Linked DNA regions of Homo sapiens. The main gene of each other region encodes a partner of the protein of the gene in region 2 in a complex. Each region holds a gene or a part of one and is shown on either strand. Other genes may lie near its edges. The genes, in order: LRRC23 and DNAJB13.

What was found.
Region 1: DNAJB13 (region 2) and LRRC23 share a complex: the UniProt entries of both Homo sapiens proteins name them as parts of the axonemal radial spoke complex.

The regions. Positions count from the first base shown.
Region 1 is NC_000012.12:6,907,637-6,919,111, reverse strand, and holds the end of LRRC23 (leucine-rich repeat-containing protein 23), read right to left. Parts: intron 9,223-11,475; coding exon 9,086-9,222; intron 6,383-9,085; coding exon 6,109-6,382; 3' UTR 6,085-6,108; intron 5,222-6,084; coding exon of another isoform or gene 5,041-5,221; 3' UTR 4,883-5,040; downstream 1-4,882. Other genes in the region: ENO2 (gamma-enolase), read right to left, coding at 950-1,172, 1,398-1,531, 2,005-2,074, 2,383-2,441, 2,600-2,695, 3,195-3,279. UniProt on the Homo sapiens protein: Essential for sperm motility and male fertility. Plays an important role in the proper assembly of the third radial spoke (RS3) head and the bridge structure between RS2 and RS3 in the sperm flagella.
Region 2 is NC_000011.10:73,942,522-73,954,272, reverse strand, and holds the start of DNAJB13 (dnaJ homolog subfamily B member 13), read right to left. Parts: upstream 3,248-11,751; 5' UTR 3,204-3,247; coding exon 3,136-3,203; intron 3,099-3,135; exon of another isoform or gene 3,036-3,098; intron 1,866-3,035; exon of another isoform or gene 1,597-1,865; intron 1-1,596. UniProt on the Homo sapiens protein: Functions as part of axonemal radial spoke complexes that play an important part in the motility of sperm and cilia.

The DNA.
Region 1 (11,475 bases), on a different chromosome or scaffold from region 2:
AGAGGCCTAGGAGGTTGGGACGGGGACAGGACAGATTTCGAATGGATGGGATGAATCCAACAGTCATCCAGACCATCTCCCAGTATTCCCAAGGGCTCCAGTGACAACTTTTTTTTTTTTTTTTTTTTTTGAGACGGAGTCTCGCTCTGTTGCCCAGGCTGGAGTGCAGTGGCATGATCTCGGCTCACCACAACCTCCGCCTCCCGGGTACAAGCGATCCTCCTGCCTCAGCCCCGCTAGTATCTGTGATTACAGGCACACGCCACCATGCCCGGCTAATTTTTGTATTTTTAGTAGAGACGGGGTTTCACCTTGTTGGCCAGGCTGGTCTCAAACTCCTGACCTCAGGTGATCCACCCGCCTCAGCCTCCCAAAGTGCTGGGATTACAGGTGTGAGCCACCGCGCCCGGCCTTCCAGTGGCAACTTAACAGATGCTAACACATCTGGCTAGGCAGGTAAAAGACTGTCCCCTGGCCAGGCGTGGTGGCTCACGCTTGTAATCCCAGCACTTTGGGAGGCCGAGGCGGGCCGATCACAAGGTCAGGAGTTCGAGACCACAGTGAAACCCTGTCTCTACTAAAAAATACAAAAAATTAGCCGGGCGTGGTGGCGGGCGCCTGTAGTCCCAGCTACTCGGGAGGCTGAGGCAGGAGAATGGCGTGAACCCGGGAGGCGGAGCTTGCAGTGAGCTGAGATCGAGCCACTGCACTCCAGCCTGGGTGACAGAGCAAGACTCCGTCTCAAAAAAAAAAAAAAATACTGTCCCCCTAGGTCTGCATGTGAATTTGGCAGGCTCTCTGCAATCCACTCTAAGAACTGGTACCTTTTGGAGTTTGCAGAGTCCTAGGACCCTCCACGCCTACTCAGGACTTGGTGAACTGTGTCACCCTTTCTGATGTCCCACAATAGGGTAAGACTTAGAGCTGGGAGTGGGGCTCCTGGCCTCACCTTCACTGTTCTCCAGGATATTGGGGGCAAAGCCACCTTCATCCCCCACATTGGTGGCATCCTTGCCGTATTTGTCCTTGATGACTCCCTTGAGTGTATGGTAGACCTCTGCACCTAGTCGCATGGCATCCCGAAAGCTCTCAGCTCCCACTGGGAGGATCATGAACTCCTGCATGGCCAGCTTGTTGCCAGCATGAGAGCCACCATTGATCACGTTGAAGGCCTGGGGAGCCACAGAAAGACAGAAGGGTCAAAGAGCCCCTCCCTGCCCGCCCCAGGAGTGTTAACCCAAGATCCCAAACTTCCCCCAGCTTTCCGGACTAAGTCTCACGTCCCCATCCTTCCTCTTTACCTCCCTCAATTCACTTTCCTCCCATCATTCCTCATGAGTTGCATGCTCCCTCCCCCACCCGCCCCTGGGAGAGCCGCAGGCTGGCTTATTGCTCACCGGCACAGGCAGGATGAGGTCTGAGTTCCCGGCCAGCTGAGCAATGTGGCGATACAGGGGCAGTTCCCGCTCAGCTGCCCCTGCCTTACACACGGCCAGAGACACACCCAGGATGGCATTGGCCCCAAACTTGGCTAGGAGATTATAGAGGAAGGTGCTGAGCACAATGTCCCCTTCTCCTTTCTAGCTCCTGCCTCCATCTGTAGTCTCCAAAAGGAGCCAGTAAAGGAGACCCCCTCCTCCCTCCCCACCCCTGCCCCAGCAACACCTCATCCATGCTCTCTTGAAAACAGCAGGGAGAGGAATGGGTGGGGAGGAGGAGATTGGAAACGGCAGAGAGCCACACCTCTTTCTAAATATCCCTGAGACCACAGACTCTCTCAGGCCATCCCCCTCCTCTGTATGCTGCAAAGAAGGTCTTCCTTCTGCCTACTGTCGGTCCTTCCCTCTGCAGCTAAACTCATCTCCCCTTGCTCTGGCTTTGAGAGGAGAATGCCCCTGACAGTCATTCCTGAGGAAGCCACTACAGCACTGGCCCTTCAGCTCTCTATCTGCTCCACGCCTCCCCACCCTGACGCTTCCCCACTTTCTCCCGGCCCCGGCTCACATTTGTTCTCAGTCCCATCCAACTCCAGCATCAGGTTGTCCAGTTTCTCTTGCTCCACCACAGAGAGACCCTGAGGGCAGAGCCTCCATCACCCAGGGCCAGGCTGGAGGCTGAGCCCTAAGGCAGAGGGTCCCCTCATTCACACCCAAGCTCACATTTGGCCAGGGTCCAACCAGGTCCCTGTGACAGGGGCCTACCTGGATTAGGGGACCTGAACTCCCATGGGAGCAGGGTGCATTAAGGAAGCTGTTCCCCACCCTTCCCCCTTGTAACCATGATTCCTAAGAGTGGGCCTTCTTTCTTCCCTTCCTCCTGCCCTGCTCCGGGATTCCTTCCAGAACTCTGGCCCTGCTATCCCCAGCAAAGAGCAGGCCTCACTGAGCTGATGAGGGCTGGCGCGATGGTGGAGTTGATGTGGTCCACTGCCTTCAGGACACCTGGGGAAAGGAAGAGGCTGGACTGGGTCGGGCCAGGAGGGGCCGGAAGGGATCAATGGGAGGAGGGGAAGCCATGCTAGAGGAGGACTGGGGACTGGTGTGAGGTAGGGGCATAAGGCTGAGGTGGGGGAGAGTCTGGAAAAGAGAAGGGACCTCACCTTTGCCTAAGTAACGCTGTTTGTCTCCATCCCTCAGCTCCAGGGCCTCATAGATGCCCGTAGAGGCTCCACTGGGCACTGCAGCCCGGAAAAGACCTAAAGGAGGAACATGGAATGAGAGGGAGTGAAGAGGACACAGGGGCCAGGGAGTCCTTCAGCCTTCTGGCTCTAAACTGCCTGCCTACCACATCTAGCTCTCTCCCCACACTGCTCCCTAACATCCCCCCACCCCCACCCCACACACACACTGAGGCAGATGCACAAGAAGTGGCCTCCTCATCCACCCATCTGAGGCCCCACATGCACAAGTGGGAGCCCGCAGAAAGAAAATTGCTTGCAGCACACGTCTGCACACATGCAAGTGCACAGGCAGACACACGGAGGCAGGACATGCCTCACACGCTAAACTCGAACACAGACCCACCTACCCTGGCTCCCCGGACAAGGAGGATCCAACCGCCACAACCCAGGCTTGTGAGCCTGGCCCAGCACCCCATACCCCTGGGTATCAAAAAAGGCCTCCGAACCCCTGGCCGAACCCAGCCTGGCCGTGGAAAAGCTAGGGCTGTAGGAAGGCCCATGCCACACCCATTACCTTTGGCAGTATAGAGATCCACCTCCACTGTGGGGTTCCCGCGGGAGTCCAGGATCTCCCGGGCCCAGATCTTCTCTATGGACATGATGGCTGGGATCTCCTCGGGTGGAAGGGAAGGAAGGAGAAAGATAAGAGGCTTAGAGGGGTGGAGCCTGAGATCAATGGGCGGGGCGGGAGGCTGGGAGGGATGGGAAAGAGGTTACTGCAGTGGGTGGGGGGTGGGTAGGGAGGCGCTGGCTGCAGTCTAGGGCTGTAGAAGGGATTCCCCCTCCCCCCTGGGAAGAGGAGAAGGTCAATGCAGTGAGGAAGGGGAGGTCACTGCAGTGGGGGGCGGGGTAAGATCAAATGATGAGATGGGAGAACACTGCAGTGAGGAGGGGAGGGGCACGACAGTGGTTCCCGCGCCTCTTTGCAGCTTGGCCAGCCGGTGGGGTTCCCCCAGATCTCCTCAGAGCGGAATGGCTGCCAGGCTTGCATTTCTCCTGGGAGCCAAGAAGAGGATGGGCTGCCTGGGCCTCTCTTCCAGAGCCCCCATACCTCCCCAACTTAACACCCCAGCTGCCTGAACACTGCCCCTTCCCCAAGGTCCCACTCTCTCCCAAACGTGTATCCCTCCTCTTCCCGCGAAAGGCGCATGCAATACAGGTGTCGGGGAAGAGGGTCCTGAGAAAGGCCCTGCAGTCCCTGGGGGTTGCAGCGGGAAGTGAAGAGGATAAGAGCCGGTGGGGAGTGGAGGCGAGCTGGGCCTGTCCTCCCCTCTGCGCCTCGACAGATCCCCACTTCTTCCATCTCTCCCCCGTGCAGCAGAGGGGAGGAAGCGCGAACGGAGAGGGGCGCCGTGGGGAAGAGCAGGAGAGAGGGGAGTCCAAGGGAAGTCTGGGGGAGGTGAGGAACGGTGAGAGAAGACATTTCCCCAAATGCAAACCAAAAGGGACGCTCTAGGATAAAAATGCACCGCCCGGAGAGGCTCCCAACTTAGAAACAAATAGAACCGTAGATGAGGGCGAGCACCGGGAGAGAGGCAGGCAAGGGTGGAGAGGCGCAGTTAGAGATAGGCGCGCAGAGGGCCAGAAAGCGAAGGCAGCGGGCGGGGAAGGCCAGGGAGGGAAGGCGCCCTGGGCGCGGGCGGCGGAGCAGGTGCGCAGCTGCACCGGGCCAGAGATGCGGAGAGGTGCGCAGCGGCACCGGGTAAAGGAGGCAGGGGCGCCGCGGCGAAGGGAGGGGGCCACAGGGGCTCTGGGCCTGGCGGGGGCTTCACCTCGGGACTGCAGACTCAGACGGTGGTAGTGGCGGTGGCGGTGGCGGTGGCGACGGCGGCGCTGAGAGAGCGGGAGTGGCAGTGGCGGCGGCGGCTGCGGCTCCCGGGCGGCGGGCGGAGGAGGCGCCTATAGGGCCGCGCGGGCGCATGTGACCCGGAGCCCCCGATGAGTCAGGAGCTGCCGGCGGAGGCGCACGTACGAGCGCGGGTGGGGGACCGACGAGGGTGGAGTGGGGAAGGGAGGAGGATGGGGGAAGGGTGGGGGCACCCACGACCTGGCCCCAGCGCACACAAGCGCTCATACCCACGGCCCGACCCACTCGACAGTAACAGGCAGAGCCGCACCCCTGTAGCCCGGGTACGAAGGCCCACACTGCCAGTGAAGCCCAAGACAGCCTCAATGTCTCACAAACCCGGTCAGACACAGGAGCATCACTCTGTTTCTTTATTGGAAATCCGAACACCCCAGCCGCCTTCGCAAGTCTCTCCAACCACTCCTACCAGCACCCCGCGGCCCACGCGGTCTTGGCTCTCACCCACGCCTGCCCGAGGGCGGCCCCCGGCCTAGGCTCCAGGCAACGCTCAGGCCTAGGCACCCCATTCTGCACCCCACACTGCCCAGAGGACCGGCACAGAGCAGATCCTGGGCCTCAGGTTGTGATGAATTTCCAGCTTTGGGGCAAAAACAGGCATCCTCTGTTCTCTGTCATACATGTGGTGGCTGCCCCTGGGAGTCTGATCAGGTCTGAAGGCCAGCGTCTTTGATCTCCTGGAGGTAGAAGACAGAAGTAAATAGGGACCAGGCGCTGTGGCTCACCCCTGTAATCCCAGCACTTTGGAAGGCGGAGGCGGGCAGATCACGAGGTCAGGAGATCCAGACCATCCTGGCTAACGTGGTGAAACCCCGTTTCTACTAAAAATACAAAAATTAGCCAGGCGCGGTTGCATGCGCCTGTAGTCCCAGCTACTCGGGAGGCTGAGGCAGGAGAATTGCTTGAACCCAGGAGGTGGAAGTTGCAGTGAGCTGAGATTGTGCCACTGCACTCCAGCCTGGAGACTAAGCAAGACTACCTCGCAAAAAAAAAAAAAAAAAAAAAAAAAAAACAAACAGAGGTAAATAAAGCCTCTCCCCTATCTAAAGTGCCTGGCGGCCACCCTCATCTCTTCAGTCTCTTTTTGCCTCACTCTGCCCTCTTTTCTTCCCCCATCTCTGTGTCCTGTTTTTAGCTTCAGATTTTTTGTGCTGGATCTTCCTCTCCTGCTTCTCTCCTAGGTCCAGCTGCATACACCACCAACTTTCCCCTGCAGCCCCTACCATGCACCCACACCTGTCCTTTCCTAGCCGACTTCACTCTGTGTCAGGTATGGCTGCCCCACCCCCCACCAACTCCTCTGCCTGCCACCCCAATTCTTTTCACTTACTCTTCTGGCCTCCTAAGTCTTTCTCAGCTGGTCCCAGGCCCCTTGGGTCCCTTTTCCTCTCCCTGACTCCTAACCCTCCTCTCTTTAAGGGTCCTGCTTGTCTGATGCTTTCCTCTCCCACCTCCTTCTGCAGCAGCTTCCCCTCTTGCCTCTTCCCCTACCTGCCCAGCCCTTGGCCTCCTCCCACTGCCTCCCTGCAGGCTTCCTTACTATCTTTAGAGGCTAGAACTGCTGCTAGATCAATGACTGTTCGGGTTCCAGGTCACGCTGGGGCTCAGGCTCCTGCTCCTTTTCTTCCTTCAGCCTCTGTCGAATCACATCAGCCTCAGCCCGTTCCTCCTCCTCATAGAATTCCTTGTCCAGGCGTTCAAGGTATGGCATCTGCACCAGGGCCTCCTGGCGGTAGCTGGTTTCGTCCGTGCATGGGTTATCAAGCAGCACCAACGCTCGCAGCTTGGGCAGGTCTCGAAGCTTGGCCAGCTCCCCCAGGTTGGCCACCATGTTGCCCCTGCCAGTGTGGTCAGGAGGGGTTCATGCAGGAATAATGGGCTTTGGTTGCCAGTTGCTAGGAATGGGGCCTCTGGGGGACTCTCGGGGTTCCAGTGTCCCTAGAAACACTGTGAGGACTGGCCTGCCAAGCCTTGCCAGATTTACTGCAGAGGTGCTGTGTGACCCCGCTCTGGTCCTGCTTCTGCCCTTCAAGGAATCCCTAAGTGCCATATTCTACTCTGTAATACATTCATGTGTTCTTTTGGTGCAGCAAAGCTAGGCCACAACCCTGTCTTGTAGCTGGGGAGGAGAGGGCAAATTTTCCTCACAGGGAGAGACATTTTCTGTGATCACACCTAAATGGAGGGTAGAAGGTAGGACCCAGCCTGGGCAACATAGCGAGACCCCATCTGTACAAAAGCTAAAAATAAAAAAATTAGCTGGGCGTGATGGCATACACCTGTAGTCCTTGCTACTTAGCTGAGGAGGAGGGATTGCTTGACCCCAGGAGTTTGAGATTACAGTGAGCCGAGATCGAGCCACTGCACTCCACCCTGTAGGACCTAGGTCAGTGGACAAGGAACTGGGATCTAAGCTGGAGTTTAGGGTGGTGGATGCTCGGTTCGTGCTCTCCACAAAGAGAACCTAAGGCTATGGATGGGTTGGAGCCTCCCAACCTGAAGAATAAACTTCATCTCCTAATGTGCCTCATTATATGATACTCTGTTTTTATTTTATTTTTATTGAGACAGGGTCTCACTATGTCACCCCGGTTGGGGGTGCAGTGGCATGATCATAGCTCACTGCAGCCTTGAATTCCTGGGCTCAAGTGATCCTCTCACCTTAGCTTCCTAAGTACCTCCAGGCATGTGCCACCACACCTGGCTAATGTTTAAATTTTTTGTAGAGACTGGGTCTCACTATGTTGCCCAGGTTTGTCTTGAACGCCTGGCCTCAAGCAGTCCTCTTGCCTTGGCCCCCCCAAAGTGCTGGGATTACAGGCGTGAGCCACCATGCCTGGAATTTTATTTATTTTCATGTTCTGGCTTTAAGCTTTTATGAAATCTATTTAAGTGTTTCAGCCTGATCTCATGGTCGTGCTGAGCCTCATGCAGTGTTTCTCACCAGGAGGGCTACAGGAACTTTGTACTGGACTCTGCCATACATTGTTGGATGCTTAGCATCTCTGGCCCCAGAGGCACCTGCCAATCATTGAGACACCCTCACCCCCCTCCACACACACACCCGACTTACTCTCAAAACATCCCCATTTAATAGCCACTCAGGAAGGGTCCATCATGCCTGTCTAGATCATTAACAGGAAGATGGCACAGATACACACCCCACCAGATCCGTGTGGCAGAGTTCATGAATAAGAGAATGCCCAGGGGGTCAGGATGAGAGTTGGGGCTTCCAGATGCAACCACCTCTCCCTACTTGGAGATGCTCTTTCCATTACCAGCTCAAGAATCTGGTCTTGTTGACTAAGGAAAGAGGCAGTTTCCTTACATGTTTGCTGAAATAAACACACATAAAGTCCTCCATCCGACAAGAGTTGCTGATCTTCAGTGCCTTTCTACCAAAAGATTTTCTTACAAATGTCCTTCTCTCCTCAAATCTGAGCACATCTTGTGTTTTTTTAATCAGTAAAAAGGTCATCCCTTACAGGTGGGGCTCAGGAGAAGAGAGGCAGGAAATGGGAAGGTGAATTGGGACCGAGGAAATGGAGAAGGGCAGTGGAAACTTATATAGGATAGGGTGAGGAAAAAAGAGTTGGAGCCAGACTGTGAGCCCCTTAGGAACAGGAATCACCTCTGATTCCTTTCTTTCTTTTAGAGACAGCTCACTCTGTCACCCAGGCTGGAGTGCAGTGGCACAATCATGGCTCACTGCAACCTTGAACTCCTGGGCTCAAGTGATCCTCCAACCTCAGCCTCCTGAGTAGCTGAAACCACAGGTGTGCACCACCAGGCTCAGTTAATTTTTATTTTTAATTTAATATTTTAATTTTTATTTAATATTTTATTTTTGTTTTGTTTTTGAGGCAGGGTCTGGCTCTGTCACCCAGGCTGGAGTGCAGCGGCTTTATCTCAGCTCACTGCAAACTCCACCTCGAGGCTCCAGCGATCCTCCCGCCTAAGTCTCCTGAGTAGCTGGGATTACAGGTGCCTGTCACCATGCCTGGCTAATTTTTGTATTTTTGGTAGAGATGGGATTTTGCCATGTTGCCCAGACTGGTCTTGAACTCCTAGGCTCCAACGATCTGCCCACTTCGGCTTCCCAAAGTGCTAGAACTACAGGTGTGAGCCACCATGCCGGGCCATTATTTTCACTTCTGTAGAAACATGGTCTCACTAGGTTGCCCAGGCTGGTCCTGAACTCCTGGCCTCAAGTGATCCTTCCTCCTAAAGTGCTGGGAGTACAGGCATGAACCACCATGCCCAGCCTCTGATTGCTTTAAATGTCCCCAAAACACAGCACAAGGCCTGGCACATAGCACATTCTCAATAATTGTGGATTGAATGAATAAAAATTCAGGGGTCACAAGCTATAAGGGATTTAGTGTTGCAACTCAGTGCAGAAGAAAGGAAGGAAAGCCGGGCTTTCCTTGAGAATCCAGCTGTGGGCTAGGACTGGGGGATTGGGCCAGGGAAGAACACAGACTCAAAAGCTGCACCTGGTCAGGGGTAGGGGCAAGGTGGGGCTTGGAGAGGGTGCATACCTCAGGTTGAGGTACTGCAATGATTTCATTTCTCTGGAGAAGCCACTCAGGGTGTCAATCTGGTTGTCTCGAAGATGCAAGGTGGTGAGATTGCTCAGATCCTCCAAGCCTTCCACCTTCTTCAGCATGTTTTGGGCCTAGACCCCCAGGGCACAGTGGATTGATTGAGAGGGAGCAGGGATAGGGAAGAAAGAGAAGTCAGAATGAGATAAAGCAAAAGAGGAAATCCAAGAGGTAGAGAGGGAGGAGTGGAAGAAAGGAGTGGGGGTGAGTAGAGATCAGTATAGAAAGTAAAGAAGTTCAGGAGAAGCTGCCATCCCAGAGAAAGGTCAGCAGTAACCCTCTACCATTCGCCCCATCAAAGCCACTTGGGATGGAGGAGATGCTTCAACCCACCCCTACCCGGCCCAGGAGCCCCCAGGCCACCACTGAGGATTGGCATCAGCACCATCCCAGAATAACGAAGCTTAAGAGTCTAAAAGACTAAATATTTCAGTGGCTTCCTGTGGAGTTATTATATATATAATATATAATATATTATATAATATATAAAATATATATTATATATTATATATTATATACTATTATATATAATATTTATATATTATATATAATATACTATTATATATAATATTTATATATTATATAAAATATATTATATATAATATACTATTATATATATTTATATATTATATATATTATATATAATATATACTATTATATATATTTATGTATTATATATAATTATATATAATATATTATATATAATTATATATAATATATAATTATATATTATATCTAATTATATATATTATATATAATTATATATTATATATAATATATAATTATATATTATATATTTTATATATAATATATAATATATAATATATAATTATATATTATATATTATATGTAATTATATATTATATATAATATATAATTATATAATATATAATATATATTTATATATAATATATAATTATATAATATATAATATATATATCGGTTTTCATCCACAGTCCCTAGCTTATAACCCCCATAATAGCCCTTCTTGCAGTCTTTTGTTATAAAGTTGGGTGTGCTGGGCCTCAGGGGCAGGTCTCAGGAACTTCTCCAGCCGTCTTTTCACCTGCTCCAAGAGAAAGCGCTAATCTTTCCCCCCACTCCCTCTTTCTGACTGTGATTCTTTCTTTTTTTTTTTTTGAAACAGAGTCTAGCTCTGTTGCCCAGGCTGGAGTGCAGTGGCGCAATCTCGGCTCACTGCAAGCCCCGCCTCCTGGGTTCACGCCATTCTCCTGCCTCAGCCTCCCGAGTAGCTGGGACTACAGGTGCCTGCCACCACACGCAGCTAATTTTTTTTTTTTGTATTTTTAGTAGAGACGGGGTTTCACCGTGTTTTTCTTTGGTTTTTTTTTTTTTTTTTTTTTTTTGAGATGGAGTCTTGCTCTGTCTCCCAGGCTGGATTGCAGTGGCGTGATCTCAGCTCACTGCAAACTCTGCCTTCTGGGTTCAAGCCATTCTGCTGCCTCAGCCTCCCTAGTAGCTGGGATTACAGGCGCATGTCAGCACACTGGGCTAATTTTTGTATTTTTAGTAGAGACAGAGTTTCGCCATGTTGGCCAGGCTGGTTTCGAACTCCGGACCTCAGGTGATCCGCCCGCCTCAGCCTCCCAAAGTGCTGGGATTACAGACATGAGCCACCGCGCCCGGCCTGATTGTGGTTCTTAAGACCCTCCCCAGCGACAGCCTCCCCAGTTTCCTGGGGGAAGGAATACTAAGATCATGAAGCTTCCATGAAAAGCCAAGAGGACTGGGTCCAGAGAGCTTCTGGGTAGCTGAACACGTGAAAGCTTTTGGAGGGTGATGCATCTGGGAAGGGCATGGAGCACTGCACCCATATCCCCATACTTCGCCCTAAGCATCTCTTCATCTGTATCCTTTGCCCTTGCAATAAACTAATAAAAACCACTCTAGAAAATTAATTAAATCCAGAGAAGAGGTCATGGGAACCAGCTTCATGTTGAAGCTGGTGTGTCAGAAGTTCTGGAGGCTTGGACTTGCAACTGGTGTATGTGGGCGGTGTAGGGGTCACTCTTGGGAACCGAGCCCTCAATCTGTGGGATTTGATGCCATCCCCAGGTAGACAGTGAATCGAATTAGAGATCACCCAGCTGGTGTCTACTACTTGGTGTATGGGGAGAAACCCCCACACCTTTGGTCCCGGAAGTCGTATGTTGATGATTGTTGTGGTGGTAGTGTAAGAGCTGAAGAAAAACCCAGTCTGAGAGGAGGGTTTTCCTAAAACATTTCCACAGACTGATGTTTGTACCTCAATTATGGTCCATTTTGCTACTACCTGTATCAAGGTAAATTATCTCTGTATTATCCAC
Region 2 (11,751 bases):
CTCACTGCAACCTCTGCCTCCTGGGTTCAAGCAATTCTCCTGTCTCAGCCTCCCCAGTAGCTGGGATTACAGGCATGCGCCACTACACCTGGCTAATTTTTTGTATTTTTAATAGAGAAGTGGTTTCACCAAGTTGGCCAGGCTGGTCTCAAACTCCTGACCTCAAGTGGTCCACCTGCCTCAGCCTCCCAAAGTGCTAGGATTACAGGTGTGAGCCACTGTGTCCAGCCATTATTATTATTATTATTATTATTATTATTATTATTATTATTTTATTATTATTTTTGAGACAGAGTCTCGCTCTGTCGCCCAGGCTGGAGTGCAGTGGCGCAATCTCGCTCACTGTAAGCTCCACCTCCCGGGTTCACGCCATTCTCCTGCCTCAGCCTCCCGAGTAGCTGGGACTACAGGTGCCCGGCTAATTTTTTGTATTTTTTAGTAGAGACGGGGTTTCAGTGTGTTAGCCAGGATGGTCTTGAGGGAAGAGAGCGACCATCTCATATTGTTTTATACTCAGTACCTGTTTTAAAAAAAAGCAACAAGGAAGTAAAACCAAAGACAGGCAGCCCAGCGCCAGGCCTGAAACCAGGCCTGGGCCTGCCTGGCCTAAACCCAGTAGTTAAAAATCAACTCATAATTTAGAAACCGATGTTATTCATAGATTCCAGACATTGTATAGAAGAACATTGTGAAACTCCCTGCCCTGTTCTGTTTCTCTCTGACTACCAGTGCATGAAACCCGTCACGTACCCCTTGTTTGCTCAAATCAATCACGACCCTTTCATGTGAAATCTTTAGTGTTGTGAGCCCTTAAAAGGGACAGAAATTGTACACTCGGGGAGCTCGGATTTTAAGGCAGTAGCTGGCCGATGCTCCCAGCTGAATAAAGCTCTTCCTTCTACAACTCGGTGTCTGAGAGGTTTTTTCTGCGGCTCGTCCTGCTACAGTCTCGATCTCCTGACCTCGTGATCCGCCTACCTCGGCCTCCCAAAGTGCTGGGATTACAGGCATGAGCCACGGTGCCCGGCCCAGCCATTTTTATTTTTTTGAGACAGGTGTTGCTCTGTTGCCCAGACTGGAGTGCAGTGGTGCAATCATAGCTCAATGCAGCCTCTACCTTCTGGGCTCAAGCAATCCTCCCACCTCAGCCTCCCAAGTAGCTGGGACTACAGGTGTGTGCCATCATGCCCAGCTAATTTTTAAATTTTCTGTAGAGACAGGGTCTCCCTATGATGCCCAGGCTGCCCTCTCAAACTCCTGGGCCCAAGGGATCCTCCTGCTTTGGCCTCCTAAAGTGCTCAGATTACAGGCATGAAACACCATGCCAGGCCTTAATCACTCTTTATATGACATGGTTTCACATGCAAATGATTGCTGGACACATGCATTATCTCATCTAATCCTATTTCAATCTCACAGCAACCTTTATTATGATGATGATTTTTAGACATGGGAAAACTTCGGCTCAAAGAGGTTAAGTAATTTGCCCAGGTCACGCAGCTAGCAGGTAAGTGAATCTGGATTCTGATCCAGCCCTTTCCAGTGCTTAAGCTGTGCTTATCTTTCTGCACGCCCACTGCCCTTCCTCCTGATTACCTTTCCCTGGATGGGTCCTTCTGGTCAATGAGATGCTCCGAAGAGTGGGTGACATCATACACTGTCCTGAATTGTTCTCAGATCCTTTCATGAGTTTGTGTCTTTTTTCTCCAACACCGCAGACTCTCCACTTATGCCACTGATCCCCTACAGGACCTGGCCCAGGAATAGGCCCATGACTGGCAACTCTGGGAGGCCTGATATCTGAACACTGGCTCCACCATTTACTAGTGCACTTGTGGGATAATAATGGCACTTAATTCTCAGGGCTGTTGTGAGGGTTAAACAGTGATGGAAAGTTCTCAGAACAGCACCTACACACTCAAAACATACACCTATTGTCACTGCCTAACTTAATTGATTGAGTTATCCTGGACTCCTCTTTTCTTCACCCTCCAGTGATCCACTTAATTACCAAGTCCATTCCCTCCCCTTTCTCTGGCCTCATCTTTTGCCTTGATTACCACGAACAGCCTCCTAAAGGGTCTCTCTCCTTCCAAGATAACTTCCACAGCCCCCCATACTTCCTCTTCTGTAACACTCATCACAGTTGTGGTGACTTATTCAACATCTATTCAGCAACAAAATCTAGCTGCATGAGGTAAGGGAGTGTCGATGTCGGATTCCGACATTTATCTCCAGCTGCTACCACTGCAGCAGGAGTGAAGTACCCTCTCAACCCTTGTGGTAGACGCTCAATAAATATTTGTTAAAAAAAAAAACATGTTTTTGGCCAGGTGCGGTGACTCACACCTATAATCCCAGCACTTGGGAAGGCTGAGGCGGGTGGATCACCAGAGGTCGGGAATTTGAGACCAGCCTGACCAAAAAGGAGAAACCCCATCTCTACTAAAAATACAAAATTAGCTGGGCATGGTGGTGCATGCCTGTAATCCCAGCTACTTGGGAAGCTGAGGCAGAAGAATCGCTTGAACCCAGGAGGTGGAGGTTGCGGTGAGCCGAGATCACGCCATTGCACTCCAGCCTGGGCAACAAGACCAAGACTCCGTCTCAAAACAAAAAACAAAAACATGTTTTCAGAAAAATGTACTGACTCCTGTTGTAGGCTTTCTTAGGAACGAGCCAGAACGTCCTTAAGATCCGATGGAAGTATTCAGGAATGTAGTTTAGTCAATGCTGAAAACCTCCATCATGGCCAGAATTGAATTTAAAACATCCATCTGGCCTGGCCACTCCCTTGTTCACAAGCCTCTGGTTCTCCATAATATTCAAGATAAAGTTCAAATGGCTCCTTTGTCCCCACTTCATTGCTGGGAAAAGCAAGGCACCCAGGAGAGGATATAGGGCATGGAGCATAAAGGGAGATGGGTTGGGAGCAGATTGAGGAACTAAAGAGTTCAAATTTCCAACCTGGGCCCTGACCCAGACCAAAGCCAGGATACAGGTATGCAAGAAGTGAAAGGAGGAACAAGGTTTACCTTGTCTGCGCTAAGCTGTGCAGGAAAGCTCGTTTTGGAAGAGAAGAGGGCAGGGCCTGCCCCAGCACACCCCTAAGGCCTGGCTCCCACCCCAACTTACGCCTGCTTGATCTGGGCATCCTCTGAATTGCGAGTGATCCCGAGCACAGAGTAATAATCCTGGCCCATGGCTGGCTAGCTGGCAGTCAGGCCCTGGATAGTCCTCAGACTCTAGCAAGGCTGTTAGTTGGCTTCCTTGGTTGCTCCTGACAACCGCACAGGTGCACTCTGGGAGTTGTAGTCCCACTTCCCTAAACAAATTTCAGCTCTGCCACAGAGAGGAGTCAGTGAAAGGACTGGGGGAGAGCTGGGGCTGATTCTGCGACCCTGTGAAAGGTCACTCAACTCGGAAATTGAAGACTCACAGGGCTCTGTTTTATTTTGTTTTTGTTTTTAAAGAGAGCAGTAATTAGTTTTAATAAAAAGGTTTTAGAAGAAATGCATTTGGCTAATTTTTTAAAAATACATTTATTTTAGAACAGTTTTAGAGTTTAGAAAAGTTGAGAAGACAGTACAGAGAGTTCCCATATACCTCACATCCACATTCTCCTATTTTATTATTATTATTATCATTATCATGTTTTTGAGACAGGGTCTTCACTCTGTCACCCAGGCTGGTGGGCAGTGGCAGGATCACACCTCACTGCAGTCTCAACCTCCCAGGCTCAAGGGATTCTTCCACCTCAGCCTTCCAAGTAGCTGAGACACAGGCGTGCACTACCATGCCTGGCTAATTTTTGTATGTTTTGTAGAGATGGGGTTTCACCATGTTGCCCAGACTGGTCTTGAACTCTTGGGCTCGGCTTGGCCTCCCAAAGTGCTGGGATTACAGGTGTGAGCCACTGCATTCACATTCCCCTATTATTAACATCTTACATTAGTATGGTACATTTGTCACAAATAATGACCAATATTGATACATTATTATTAACTAAAATCCACATTTTATTCAGATTTACTAGTTGTTTTAACCTAATATCTTATTTCTGTTCCGGACCCCATCCAGGATGCCACGTTACACTTAGCTGTTGCATCTCCTCTGGTGCCTCCTGACTGTGACAGTTTCTCAGACTTTCCATGTTTTTGATGACCTTGACAGTTTAAGTAATAATGGTCAGGTGTTTTGTAGAATGTCCTGCAATTGGAATTTGTTTGGTGTTTTTCTTTTTGTTTGTTTGTTTTTGTTTTTTGAGATGGAGTCTCACTCCATCGCCCAGGCTGGAGTGCAGTGGCACAATTTCAGCTCACTGCAACCTCTGCCTCCCGGGTTCCAGCGATTCTCCTGCCTCAGCCTCCCAAGTAGCTGAGATTACAGGCATGTGCCACCATGCCCGGCTAATTTTTGTTATTTTTACTAGAGACGGGGTTTCACCATGTTGGCCAGGCTGGTCTCAAACTCCTGACCTCAAGTGATCCACCCACCTCAGCCTCCCAAAGTGTTGGGATTACAGGCGTGAGCCACCGCGCCAGCCCTCCTTCCCCACTTGCTGTATTGCACTCTTTGGAAGGCAGTCACTGTGCGGCCCACCCTTACAGTGAGGGAGTTATGCTCCACCTCTCTGAGTACAGCAGAGCCCTGTTTTCCATGCACATCCCAAATCCAACTGGTCACCAAGCTCAGTCCATTCTGCTTCCTAGACAACCTCTCAAGCCCAGCTCCTCTGCTCTTCCTCCTCATAATCAGGGCCCAGCTCTGGATTCATCTTTCAGCAAGACCACAACAACTTCCTCGCGGGCCTGCCTGCCTTGTCTCTGTTCTGCAAAGCCCACACTCCTCATTACTTCGAGTGAACTCCAAACTGCTTACCATGGCACACAGGCCCTCTGTGATCTGGTGCCTCCCTTTCCACCTGAGCTCTCACCACTGCCCTACACGCACCCACTGCTTGTCAGAATGGACTGCAGTGCCTGCCACTGCCCAAACCAGCCATCCCCTCTCCTCATTCACCTCTGCTGCTACCTCTGCTCAGAACCTCCCACCCCACCCACCACAGACCCTCGCCTCAACCCAGCTAACTTCTATTTGTTTTTTCTTCTTAGGAAGAAAAAGAGCAGCATTAGAACATTCCTTGTTGAAGGAATATTGCCCCGATGTGCCCCTCCCTACCTGTTTGTAATTCTCTTGCTTTTCTTTAGAGCTTTACTCCATATGCCTGTACCCAGTGGTGTGCTGTTTTGTGGCATTTGCCAGTTCTTCCCAAGCCAGTACAAGCCAGCTCCAGTGCCACACTGCAAATATCCACAGCAACATATTTACCTTTTCATATTTTTGAACTTTATATAAATGGTATCATTTATACAAATGGTAGGTATTTGTGTGTGTGACTTATTGTCACAGGCTGTATAGTACTCTCTGTTGATGAACATTTGGGTATATGCGCCCACTTTGCAAGGCAATGCCAAAGTTTTCTGGTGTGGTTTTCTAATTTACGCTGGCAACAGCAGTGTATCAGTTTCTTTTGCTTCATATCCTTACCAACTCTTTTTTTTTTTTAAGACAGGGTCTCCCTCTATTGCCCAGGCTGGAGTGCAGTGGTGCGATCATGGCTCAACCTCCTGCAGCCTCGACTTCCTGGGCTTAAGCAATCCTCCTGCCTCAGCCTCGCAAGTAGCTGGAAACCCAGGCACACACCACCACATCAGGCTAATTTTTAAATTTTTTGTAGAGACGAGGTCTTGCCATATTGTGCAAACAGGTCTTGAACTCATGGGCTCAAGTGATCCTTCCATCTCAGCTTCCCAAAGTGCTGGGATTATGGACATGAGCCAACACTCCTGGCCCTCACCAACTCTTGATGTCAAGTTTTAAAACGTTTGCCAATATAGTAGGCATAAAGTGGCATCTCATTGTGGATTTTAATTTGCATTTCTTGGTTGAGTATCTTTTCATACTTATTGGCCATTTGTTTTTCCTCATTGTGAAACACCTATTTATGTTTTTGCCCATTTTTTTCTATTTGACTATCCTTTTTACAAACTGACAGGCCGGGCATAGTGGCTCATGCCTGTAATCCCAGCACTTGGGGAGGCCGAGGTGGATGGATCACCTGAGGTCAGGAGTACAAGACCAGCCTGACCAACATGGAGAAACCCCATCTCTACTAAAAATACAAAATTAGCTGGACATGGTGGCGCATGCCTGTAATCCCAGCTACTTGGGAGGCTGAGGCAGAAGAATAGCTTGAACCTGGGAGGCAGAGGTTGCGGTGAGCAGAGATTGTGCCACTTCACTCCAGCCTGGGCAACAAGAACGAAACTCCGTCTCAAAAAAAAAAAAAAAAAAAAAAACTGACTAGTGGCTTTTTATGTTTTTTGAAAACAAACTCTTTGTTGATAATATGAAATACGAATCCTTTCTTCAACTTGAAGCTTTTTTCACCTTTTTAAAAGTCAAATGTATCAATCTTTTCCTTTCTGGTTACACGTTTTGTGTGTGTCTAGTTTAAGAAATATTTCCTTATGTGAGGGCATAAAGATCTTCACCTATATGATCTTCCGAAAGTCCATTTCACATTTAAATATTTAACACACCTAGAGTTTATTTTTTTGTATATGGAGCAAGATAGTATCTTTTCTGAAAGATATCCAACTGCTCAGATCATTTATTTAATTGTCCATTGTCTTCCCACCGATCTGTACTGACTGCTGTGTTAGATATGAAATTTCCACATATGCATGGGTTGGTGTCTGGAACTACTGTCCATTGGTCTATCACTGGGGCAATGTGTTGCTAGAAGAGCTGAGGCAAGTCTTGCTTGTCTGACATAACGTAAGAGAGTCTTGGAACATGTCCTGGGTCCAGGGTCTAAAACCCCTCGTGGCCTTTGGAACACCAAGCTCTGTGCCAAAGGGTGGAAGGCTGCCCTGCCACACCACAATCTAAGCCCAGGGCATAAAACCCCTCGTGGCTTGGATGCAATCCAGGGCTCAGGGAATAAAACCCCTTGTGGCCTCTGGAATGTGTCCAGACTTGCTGGCTCCTTGCTTCTTGCTGTCCCAGGTTTGTAAATTGATTGTTATCTTGAGATAGAAAAACACGTTCTCCATTATCTCGAGTAGCAGAGCATACTCCATATGCTTAAAAGAAAATGCTAAACTGCCACAGCTATAGGTCAAACGCTTGATGCACCGCTTCCTTTCTAACCCCATGTCCTCACGTCCTCACCACCTGCTTCTGTTTGATCACCAATAAAGAGCGTGGGCTCCCAGAGCTCAGGGCCTTCGCAGCTGCCATACTGGTGTTGGCCCCCTGGACCCACTTTATGCATTCTTGTCTTGTCTCATTCCTTCGACTCTGCCAGACTTTGTAGCCCCCACAGCCTGGTGTTGGGTCTGATCACTCCAACATTTCTGGCACCCAATGTGGGGCAACGAAAACCCCTGTGAAGGAACGCTAGAGCATGCGGAAGCAGAGGACAATTGTCAGAGGACACCAGAGGATGACTGAAAGAAGCTCGGCAGGTAAGCTGGACGCTTGGAAGAACCAGGGTAACAATGGGACAGAATGAAAGCAAATATTCTGCTTATTTAAATTTCTTAAGGCATTTATTACGGAGAGGGGGAGTGAAAGTTAGTACTCAAAGTCTATTAACACTTTTCAGCACAGTAGAGCAGTTCTGCCCATGGCTTCCGGAACAAGGGACTATGGAGTTGGATGAATGGGAAAGAACTGGCAGAGATTTTAAAAAGGCATATAAAGATGGAGCCAAAATTCCAGTTTCTGTTTGGTCAGTGTGGGCGTTAATAAAGGCAGCTCCTGAGCCATTTCAAACAGATGATGAGGCAGATTCAGATGAAGAAGAGGAGGATGAGTGTAAGAAACTAACATCAGATTCTGAACGCGAGGCACAGGAGCCGGAGGAAATCATAGAAAAGAAAGGAAAGCTGAAAAAGACATATTTTACTGGTCCATCAGCTCCGCCTGCTGAATTAAGTGAATGGCCACCTCCTCCCTCTCCCACAATGGGTGAGAAAGTGAAGCAGCTGTAAAAATTACTGCTCCTGTAGTGACAACATTAAAATCTGAAGCAACTGGTGGTGCTATACAAAATTCTATTCAGAAGGCTAGAGCTGAAGGACACCTTGAAGCATGGCAATTTCCAGTTACTATAACCCAACAAGGAGGACAGAATACAGCTAATTGGGCCACTTTTCCTTTTAAGTTATTAAAAGAATTCAAGCAAGCCATTAGTCAATATGGGCCAAATTCTCCTTTTGTGTGAACTTTACTAAAAAATGTGGCTCTTGATAATAGGTTAGTACCATATGATTGGGATACTTTAACAAAATCTGTTCTCACTCTGTCTCAGTACTTGCAATTTAAAACTTGGTGGGCTAATGAAGCTCAAACTCAGGCAAGAGAAAACACACAGGCACAGCCGCCTGTGCCTGTGTCCTCTGAACAGTTAATGGGGGTCAGCCCTAACAGGGGTCGATTAGACAATCAAGCATTAATGGAGGATGTTGCCATTGCTCAGTTATGCTCTGTATGCTTAAGGGCATGGGAAAGAATAAATGTTATAGAGGAAAAATATCCATCTTTCAGTTCTGTCTGACAAGGAACCATATACTGATTTTATTGCTCGGCTCCAGGAGGCTGTGTATAAAGCCATAACTGACAAAACAACCTCAAGATGTTGTAATAAAGCTTCTTGCATACGATAATGCCAATGCAGAATGTCAAACTGCTATTCGACCTAGGAGAGGGAAGCCTCATTTGGCTGAGTATATTAAGGCTTGTGATGGCATTGGGGGTAACTTACATGAGGCTACTCTTTTAGCTCAGGCTATGGCTGGATTAAAAGCCGGAAAAAATATGCCTCGTTTCTCGGGTTCTTGTTTTAATTGTGGGCAATTTGGACACACAAAAAAGGAATGTAAAAAAGGAAATCAACAGGCAAAGGTTACTACCAGTAAGCAGCAAAAAAAGTTCCGGTATCTGCCCCCGATGTAAAAAGGGAAATCACTGGGCAAATCAGTGTCATTCTAAATTTAGCAAAGATGGACAAACTCTCTTTTGGGCCCCTCAACAAACCGAGGCGTATCTGGCACAGCCAGTGCCCTTACAAACGTACAATTGTCCCCCGCCACAGCAGGCGGTGCTGCCGTAGACCTCTGCAGCACAAGTCCTGTCTCCCTACTTCCTGGGGAGCCACCAAAGAAGGTCCCCACGGGAGTTAGGGGCCCTTTACCCTCAGGATCAGCTGGTCTATTGCTTGGAAGGGCTAGTTTAAATTTAAGAGGTGCCACTGTACATACAGGAATAATTGATTCTGATTATACCGGAGAAATTCAACTAGTTATCAGTTCCTCAACTCCATGGTCTGCTTCCCCAGGAGAAAGAATTGCTCAGTTGTTACTTCTACCTTATACAAAACTGGGAAGCAGCATAGTAAAAGGAATGGGAGGCTTTGGTAGTACAAATCCAGCAGGAAAGGCTGTCTATTGGGTTAATCAAGTGTCTGACAAAAGACCTATTTGTACAGTAACGATTCGAGGTAAAGACTTTGAGGGACTAGTAGATACTGGAGATGATGTTTCTATTATTGCTTTAGATCAATGGTGCCAGCATTGGCCCAAACAAAAGGCATCCTTAGTATTGTTGGAGTAGGAGCTGCCTCAGAAGTGTTTCAAAGTTCCTTAATTCTGCCATGTCAAGGGCCAGATGGTCAGGAAGGGACTTATTCCAACAACGGGGTGCTGAAATATCTATTCCTATGGATCAATATAGTAATAACAATAAACAAATGATGAAAAAAATGGGATATCTCCCGGGGAAAGGACTAGCAAAAAATGAAAATGGACAACCAGAACCTTTAGAACTAAAAGGTTAAACAGAGCAAACTGGATCGGGGTATCATTTTTAGGAGCGGCCATTGTCGAGCCTCTGGCACCCATTCCTCTTGTTTGGCTAACTGCCAAACTGGTTTGGGTGGAGCAATGGCCACTGAAACGGGAAAAACTGGAGGCTTTAAAAGAATTGGTGCAAGAACAATTGCAAAAGGGACACATAGAGCCTACTTTCTCTTCTTGGAATTCTCCTATGTTTGTCATTAAGAAAAAATCAGGGAAATGGAAAATGTTAACAGACTTGAGGGCCGTTAATGCTGTAATTCAACTCATGGGCGCGCTGCAACCAGGGCTGCCCTCCCCAACTACGATTCCTAAATACTGGCCTCTCATAGTGATAGATTTAAAAGGTTGCTTTTTTACCATTCCTTTAGCGACCCAAGATTATGAAAAATTTGCTTTTACTGTTCCCGTCATAAATAACAAAGAATCAGCAGATAGATACTATTGGAACGTATTTCCACAAGGCATGTTAAATAGCCCAACTATTTGTCCAACTTATGTTGTTAAAGTTTTTATGCCAGTTAGAAAACAGTTTAAAAAATGTTATATCATCCGTTACATGGATAATATCTTATGTGCAGCTGAAACTAGGGAGGAATGAATACTATGCTACAAACAGAAAAGGCTGTAACTGCTGCAGGATTAATCACAGCCCCCGATAAAATCCAAACTTCCACTCTATTTCAATATTTAGGAAGGAAAGTAAAACAAAGTACTATTAAGCCTCAAAAGGTTCAAATTCAAAGAGATAATTTAAAAACTCTAAATGAGGCCGGGCGTGGTGGCTCACGCCTGTAATCCCAGCACTTTGGGAGGCTGAGGTGGGTGGATCACAAGGTCAGGAGATGGAGACCATCCTGGCTAACACGGTGAAACCCTGTCTCTACTAAAAATACAAAAAATTAGCCAGGCGTGGTGGCAGGCACCTGTAGTCCCAGCTACTAGGGAGGCTGAGGCAGGAGAATGGCATGAACCCAGGAGGCGGAGCTTGCAGTGAGCCGAGATTGCACCACCGCACTCCAGCCTGGGTGACAGAGCGAGACTCTGTCTCAAAAAAAAAAAAAAAAAAAAAAAAAACCTCTAAATGATTTTCAAAAATTATTCCCACTTTAGGCATTCCTACTTATGCTATGTCTCACCTCTTTTCTAACTTATGAGGTGATTCTGATCTTAACAGCAAATGCTCTCTATCCAAAGAAGCATTGTAAGAACTTCAATTAATTGAAGAAAAAATTCATCAGGCACAAGTGACTTGAATTGATCTACTACAGCCATTACAGTTTTTCATTTTTCCTACTAAACATTCAACTACAGGTGTTACTGTTCAACAGGATGATCTAGCTGAGTGGCTTTTTCTACCTCACAATACAACTAGAACACTTACTCTGTACTTAGATCAAATTGCTGTACTGATAGGTCAAGCAAGGCTGTATACAACAAAATTAATGGGATATGATCCAAATCAAATTATAGTTCCTTTAAATAAACAACAAATTCAGCAAGCTTATGTTAACTCCCAGAAATGGCAAGTTAATTTAGCTGGTTTTATTGGTATACTTGATAATCATTATCCTAAATCCAAAATATTCCAATTTCTAAAATTGACATCATGGATATTACCCTCCACTACTCAAAAGACCCCTATTGAAGGGGCCAATACTGTTTTTACTGATGGATCTAGTAATGGAAAGGCCTCATTTGTAGGACCTCAACAACAAGTTGTTCAAACTGACTTTGCTTCTGCTCAAAGGGCTGAACTTATGGCTGTAATTACAGTACTAAAAACCTTTAAACAGCCAGTAAACATTATTTCTGATTCGGCCTA